Linked DNA regions of Homo sapiens. The protein of the gene in region 2 purifies or fractionates together with the protein of the main gene of each other region. This does not show direct contact. Each region holds a gene or a part of one and is shown on either strand. Other genes may lie near its edges.

Region 1 (3,100 bases), on a different chromosome or scaffold from region 2:
TTGGGGGCCTGGGAGGGCTGCTGACTCCTGACTTCAGTGAGGAGGTGGGGGCAGCCCCAGGCCGGCAGAGGTGGGTCGTGGAGCCAGGCCCTCCTTCCCAGCAGGACACAGTGGCCATGGGGGAGCCAGGGCTGCCTCTGCCACCAGGCCTCAGCACCTCACTCCCTTAAAGGACTATGACAGTGACGGGGTAGGGGGAACCCCGACAGAGAGGGCTAGACCCCTAGGGCCACCCCGCCTCCCGTTTGCTTGGGATCCTGTAACCGTGGAGTCTCGGTGCAAGGGCCTCCCAGGCACCGGGGCTTCAGGCCTAAGCAGAAGCTCAACCCAGGGCCTTCCTACAGGCCCAATCCCGCGGCTGCCTGAGCCCGGCAGGGCGCCCTGACTGTGGCACTCACCATCCAGGTTGTTCAGGGACATGACGACGTCCAGGTCGGCACCCAGGATTTTGCCCAGCTGGTTGACGAGAGCAGAGTCGTTGGCTGGGTACACAGCCACGTGGTCCCCAGATTCATACCTGGAGGGAGATGTGAGGCTCGGGAGGGGCGGAAGGCTGGCCCTGCCCCAGGTCAGGAGGCCCAGAGTGAGGGTTCAGGGGGTGACAGTGGCAGCTGGTACCTGATTTTGGAGTCCGAGATGTCCAATTCCAGGTGCATGAGGTGGCGCTCGGTTCCCTGGTTCAGCTTCCGGTTGGTGGTGACTGCAGCCAGGAACGGATTCTTGGCATCAAAGGGGCTGGGTGGGGAGGAGAGAAGCACAGTGAGCGGCCGGGGCTTTGATCTGAGTCTCCGTCTCCAAGGACGCTTCTGGTTGCACAAAGCACAGGGAATCTCAGAGATCTCCATGAGGAAATCTCACCGGTTACATCAAGGGCTCTCCCAGCCTGGTCCAATGCAGTTCTCTTTTTTTTTTTTGAGACAGAGTTTCGCTCTGCCACCCAGGCTGGAGTGCAGCGGCGCGATCTCGGCTCACTGCAACCTCTGCCTCCCAGGTTCAAGCAATTCTCCTGCCTCAGCCTCCTGAGCAGCTGGAATTACAGGCATTCGCCACCATGCCTGGTTAACTTTTATATTTTTACTAGAGACGGGGTTTCACCATGTTGGCCAGGCTGGTCTTGAACTCCTGACCTCAGGTGATTCACCCACCTCGGCCTCCCAGAGTGCTGGGATTAGAGCTGTGAGCCACCTCGCCCAGCCCTAATGCAGTTCTCTCTATAGTCCCACCACATGGGCAGAGCTGGGTCATCAGTGTCTGTTTACAGATGTGGAAACTGAGGCTGGCCCCTAAAAGAACTGTGAGGCCCAAGCTGACGGTGCCACAGGCTGGAAGGTGGCTGGTCCCCAAATGAGGAGCACAGCTCCCCCACCCCCACACGTCCTGGACTACACCGTGGACAAGAGAGAAACTTGCACTCCGGAAAGCCACCGACATGCAGGGCTTCTCGCTCCAGCCAGGCTGGGGCAGGCCTACAGAAAGCAGGGCAGCTGGTCTTGGATGCAGTGGCACGAGGACTTCCCTGGGTGGCTCGGGCAGGAATCTGGGCAGCAACCAGGGGCCATCAAGGGCACAGAGAGGAACGCCAGGTTTCTCCCCCAAGTCTATCTATGGAGATAGATTCTAAGAAAATGAGCCCTTCTGCCAAAGAGGATCCTAGCCACAGAGGCCAATGCACTGTCCTAGTCGAGAAGTGGGATGTGCCCCGCTGCCCTGGGCAGTGCAGAGTAAGGTGGCTAAGTGAGCTCAGTACAAACTGGGCGAGTGCCAGTCTCCTGGGGCCGGGCCGTGGACAGGTCGTGGACACTCACACCCACTCGGGGCACGGGGTCTGGTGAGAAGGGCCCTGTGGGGATATGGGGATACACGGCAGACTGAGCCTGGGGTGCACCAGTGGCCATAGAGCCGTCTGCCCCAAGCCACGCTCCCTCCACTCACGGCTTCTGGTTCTCGTAGCTCTTCAGCCGGCCCATCTCCCCCATGTACACCTTGGCCGCATCTATGTCGGTGTGGACCACAAGCTCGTACTGGCGAATGCTGGAAAGGGGAGACCAAGGGTGAGGCCGGGAAGCGGCAGGGGTCAGTCCCGAGAGGGAGGGGTTGGACTACAGGGGAGACCGTGCATGGCCTTTGGGGTGAGGTCCCAGGTACATACGACAAGAAGCAGGGGAGCCCCTGCTGCAGATGCACAAGGAGGGCAGGCGAGGGAGCAAGGAGGGAGGCGGCGTGGAGCTGCCGGGGGCCAGACGCCCAGAAGCCGGGGCAGGGCTGGGCAGGCTTCCATCTGGGAGAAGGTAAGGAAGCCCGGGCAGCACCCAGGGGCCATCAAGGGCACAGAGAGGAACGTTATGTTTTTGGCCAAGTCTGTGGAGGCAGATTTTAAGGAAATGAGCCCTTTTGCCAAAGTTGAACCTAGCCACAGAGCCCGACGCGATGTGTCCTTGTCGAGAGGTGGGATGCACCCCGCTGCCCCAGGGCAGTGCAGAGCAACGTGGCAGAGTGAGTCCTTGGCTGGGACCAAGGTCCCTCCTCGACCCTATGACGGAGTGTCTTCTAACCTTGCTGCGACCCACTGCCAGCCCTTGTTCCAGGGTGGCTGCCCTCGGCACAGGACCCGCCCAGGCCACCCACCGCACCTGCGGGCACTTGCTCACCTGGACTCCTCGCCAGTGGCTTCCACCCCAAAGTGTTCACACACGGCCGGCCAGAACTGCTCTCGCCAGGTGATGAAGTCCTCCTCCAAGCTGGGCCGAGGAGAGGAGAGGGGGAGCGGCTCAGGGGAGGCCCATGTGGCAACGGTACCTGGTGCCAGGCACGCCCCGACCCCACCCCATCCCCAAAGCTCAGGACTGTGCACCCTGGGGCACCCAGCGACATAAACCCAGAGCATCAGGAAGGCTCCAGGGAGTTGGGCAAGCCGAAAAGCAAAACTGGCAGGGGCAGGGCAGAGGCAGGAGAGCCCCTTCCCTCTGTGTTGGAGGTGCGTGTCGCTGAGTCTCAGCTGACACAATGGTGTGCGCGCCCCTCACGTTCCACGGCCCCTGCCTAAGCCCGCCGCGCTGATCATGGTGGCAGGGTGGGCACTCACTTCCCATCGTCGTCGCCC
Region 2 (3,795 bases):
CGTTGATTTCCTCCCCTAGGTGACAACTTTTAATTAATTACCATCGGCTTTCTGTACCTGAGGCTTCTGTATCCTTGGATTCAACCGAGGATTGAAAATAAAAAACAATAAAAACAACACAATAAAAATGCAAATATAGAAACAATACAGTGTAACAAGTATTACATAGCCTTTATATTGTATTTGATATTATAAGTCCTCTAGAGATGATTTAAAGAATACAGGAAGATATGCATAGATTATATCCAAATCTATACACTACACCATATCCATGTACACATACACTACACCAAAATCCACAACACCATTTTATGTTTTTGAGACAGTCTTACTCTGTCACCTCGCCTGGGGTCCAGTGGTGCGAACACGGCTCACCGCAGTCTTGAACTCCTGGGCTCAAGCAATCCTCCCACCTCAGCCTCCTAAGTAGCTGGGACCACAGGCGTTCACCACCATGTGTGCCTAATTTTTTTTAGTGAAGGGGCGGGGCGGGGGGGGCGGGTTTCACTATGTTGCCTAGGCTGGTCTCGAACTCCTGGCCTCAAGCAATTCTCCCGCCTTGGCCTCTCAAAGTGCTGAGATTACATGGGTGAGCCGCTGTGCCTGACCCACTATGCCATTTTATATCAGGGACTTGAGTAGTCTCGGATTTTGGTATCCGAGGAGGTCTTGGAACCAATCCCCTACAGATTCTGAGGGATGACTCTTTTCTTAAAGAGTAGCCCAAGAAGGAGGCACGTGAAGAGCAAAACTGTGTCCAGGAGAGCTTTTATTTGTACGGAACAGTTTTAAAAATACAGAATAAAATAGCTTTATCTCTACTATTATTCACAACATCTGGTCCAAATATTACATATTTTTAAAATACTTAAACGTTTAATGAAGCCATGTTAGAAAAACAATATGAAAATTCTTTTTAAAAACTCCATAAAAGAATTACACATCTCAAAAAACAACCCCACCCCAAATACCCTCGGTAATCAAAATAAAAATAAAAAACAAACAAAACCCCAGAAAGGTATATATAGCCAAAGTCAGTCACAAAAACTCAAGGAAAATATAGGCATCCCCACTGTTTTAAGAACAGTCAGAAATGTATTAAGGTGTCAAATGAAGATTGTTACTAACGAACAAAAAAGGAGAGTCATTTGAACTGTCAGTAAGATGGCAACGTGGGGAAGGGTGTCCTAAGTGCCTGGAAACACGCACAGCAATGCTAAGGACATGGGAGGGTAGAGTGATGCTGAAACACAGTCAACACCAACCAGAAAGGACGGGAATGTCTGTGAGGCTGCTGAAAAGAGACCCCCAACGCTAATGTGCCTTATGGGTCCATGGGCAGACGCTGAACGCTGGCAAAACCGGGTGGCCGTTCTTGCACTACTCGGGTTCTGACTGCAGGAGGGGCAGAGGGTGGTCGATGTCCTAGTCCCTGTGTCTAAAAAGTCATGAGGGGACAGAGTACAACAGGCAGCACGTTAAGTCCCTGGGCTCTTTTCCAAAGCCAAGAGGAGGCTCCCTGGAGAAGCGAGCTTTGCGAATGCTCAGGCCCGGAGCCGCACACTAACGCGGCGTGCAGCAGGTGTGGCTGGGTGTGCACAGCTGGCGTCCAGCGACAGCCATGCCGGGCCTATGCCTATAGCGAGTGTACACCCCATGCACGGCCATCCCCCAGGATGCTGCTGCTTCTCTGGCCAGATGGGTTCTGGAATGAGGCTTCTGCTACTGCTCCATATTCACCTTCAATCTGGCCTGGCCACTCCCATGGCATCCGTATTACTGAAGATGAGACTTGCCAACTTTAAGTTGCTAGTACCAATATTTCAGCAGGGATATGAATGAAAGAAATAACAACTTAGCTCATGGTCATAAAATATACGTATGGGTAAATAAAGTATACACACATACTAGAGATTCATCAATGGAGAAATTCTATCATCACATGACATTGTCATGAAAATTATATCATTCCCTCCCTGGAAAACTGTGACTATTATCCTGGGTAGAAATGTTATTTTGCTATATGGAAATACTGCAATATTCATGCATAAACCAAGTTGTCATCATGAAAGTCGGTATTCTACAGCATAAAGCAAAACCTCTGTGCGAATTTGTTACCATGAAAACGGGAAACCATCAGGACCCATGATGCTTCATTCTGGCTGGCATGGTTAAAGCCACTTCTCTTGCCTTGATCAATCCCAAGAAACTAAAAGTTAGCATTTGAAATCCTCTTGAGGATTCTGAAAGTAAATGTATCTGTGAATCTACATTTAACTTCCTAATGAGAATGAAAATTGCTTACAAAGACTAGAGTCACTTCCCATTATTCTGTGAAGCAGGGGTGGGGGCCCTCCATCCCCCACTGTGAATATGGCATCACCTCCTGTCCGTATTCACGCTGTCTACATTTCATGTTGGGATTGCCCACACAAATGCTTTCTTTCAGGGACCAGGCAGGTGACCTGGGAAGGTGGTGGGTAGGTGGTCTCTGTGGAAACTGGAGACTAACCGGCCTGCAAGGACATTCACATCCAAAATATTTTACAACACTCTACAGGCAAAACAAAGTACGGGGTGGTGGTTCAAAGCCCCAGCAACGCAGGCCAATGATGTGAATGGGAAGTGTCATGACACAGACCGCGAGTGGCCACCGTGTCCCCCAATATCTCCCCTTCAGGTGTGTGCTTAAACCCAAGAAGCAGATGAATACATTCTTTTTCTTTCAATTACAAACTTTCATTCTGTAGCATATTTTCCAGTAGGAGAACCACTTCCTAAAATGGTGTGTGTGTGTGTGTGTGTGTGTGTTACATGTTCAAGTTTATTAGTCATTAGGGGACTCCAATCACTCAAGGCTGTGCAGAAAGTACCAGATTCAGCAGGGGCATCTAGTCAGGCTGCCCTCTTTGCTCCCCACCTCCTATTCCCTTACCCCTCCTCGGACAGAATTATTGGGTTGGCCACAGTGGAATCAGAACAGGAAACTCTCACTCCAACAGGAGTTGAAAGGGTAGGGCTTCCTTCCCTGTGTGAAGGCCTACAGAGGGCACCCCACATGTTAGCGGGGTTGAATCCTCCTGATACAACCCGGCCCAAGGAGGGGCTTCAGAAGGGAGTGGGTTTCTGGATGACTAGAGCAGACACCTTGAGTGTTATGCAGCGGAAGACGCCCAGTCAAGCTGAAGAGAAGGTGCCCCTGGATCACCAATGGCTTTCAGGCTTTTATTTGGATATTTGGTCTTTCTGCTCACCTGGAGAGCTAGAAGATTGCAAATCTCTGGGATGTTTAGCAGTTTTCCCCATTTTTCAGAGCAGAGAAACTGGAGATGTTGAGCAAAATCCAAACAGAAGGAACTGAGAGCAACTCATTGCAGGAGGGCTGCCAGCCTCAAGAGTGTCCCAAGGCAAGAGGGATGGAAACCGCGAGCCAGTGTGCTTCTAAAGTATGCATCAAAGACACATTTAAAAAAACATACAAAATTAGATGTAATTTAGCATCTAAGTTCTTTACTTAATCTGCAGTAAGTTTTTGGCAAAACAATGCAGTGGCTCCGAGGTGTTCTTGCCAGAATAAACCTTGAAGCCCCAAACTTCCAAGAGTGAAGGGGGCTACGGTGACATGGCAATGCTGCAAAGACAGCGCCGCAGCACTGGAGAGCTGAGCCAGCCTGGGGCCGAGGGGGACAGGAATGCACCGTGTGGACACCAGGCTGCCAAGAACCATGCCCTGCCGCTGGAGACAGGAGACAGGCACCCACGCAGCTGACCAAAGCTCGACCAGGCCAACGGCCA

What was found.
Region 1: the proteins of SLC23A2 (region 2) and POR purify together in Homo sapiens (affinity purification with mass spectrometry; one large-scale study listed by BioGRID and IntAct). This does not show direct contact.

The regions. Positions count from the first base shown.
Region 1 is NC_000007.14:75,981,155-75,984,254, reverse strand, and holds part of POR (NADPH--cytochrome P450 reductase), read right to left. Parts: coding exon 3,083-3,100; intron 2,739-3,082; coding exon 2,649-2,738; intron 2,032-2,648; coding exon 1,933-2,031; intron 736-1,932; coding exon 619-735; intron 518-618; coding exon 399-517; intron 1-398. UniProt on the Homo sapiens protein: This enzyme is required for electron transfer from NADP to cytochrome P450 in microsomes. It can also provide electron transfer to heme oxygenase and cytochrome B5.
Region 2 is NC_000020.11:4,851,606-4,855,400, forward strand, and holds the end of SLC23A2 (solute carrier family 23 member 2), read right to left. Parts: 3' UTR 753-3,795; downstream 1-752. UniProt on the Homo sapiens protein: Sodium/ascorbate cotransporter. Mediates electrogenic uptake of vitamin C, with a stoichiometry of 2 Na(+) for each ascorbate.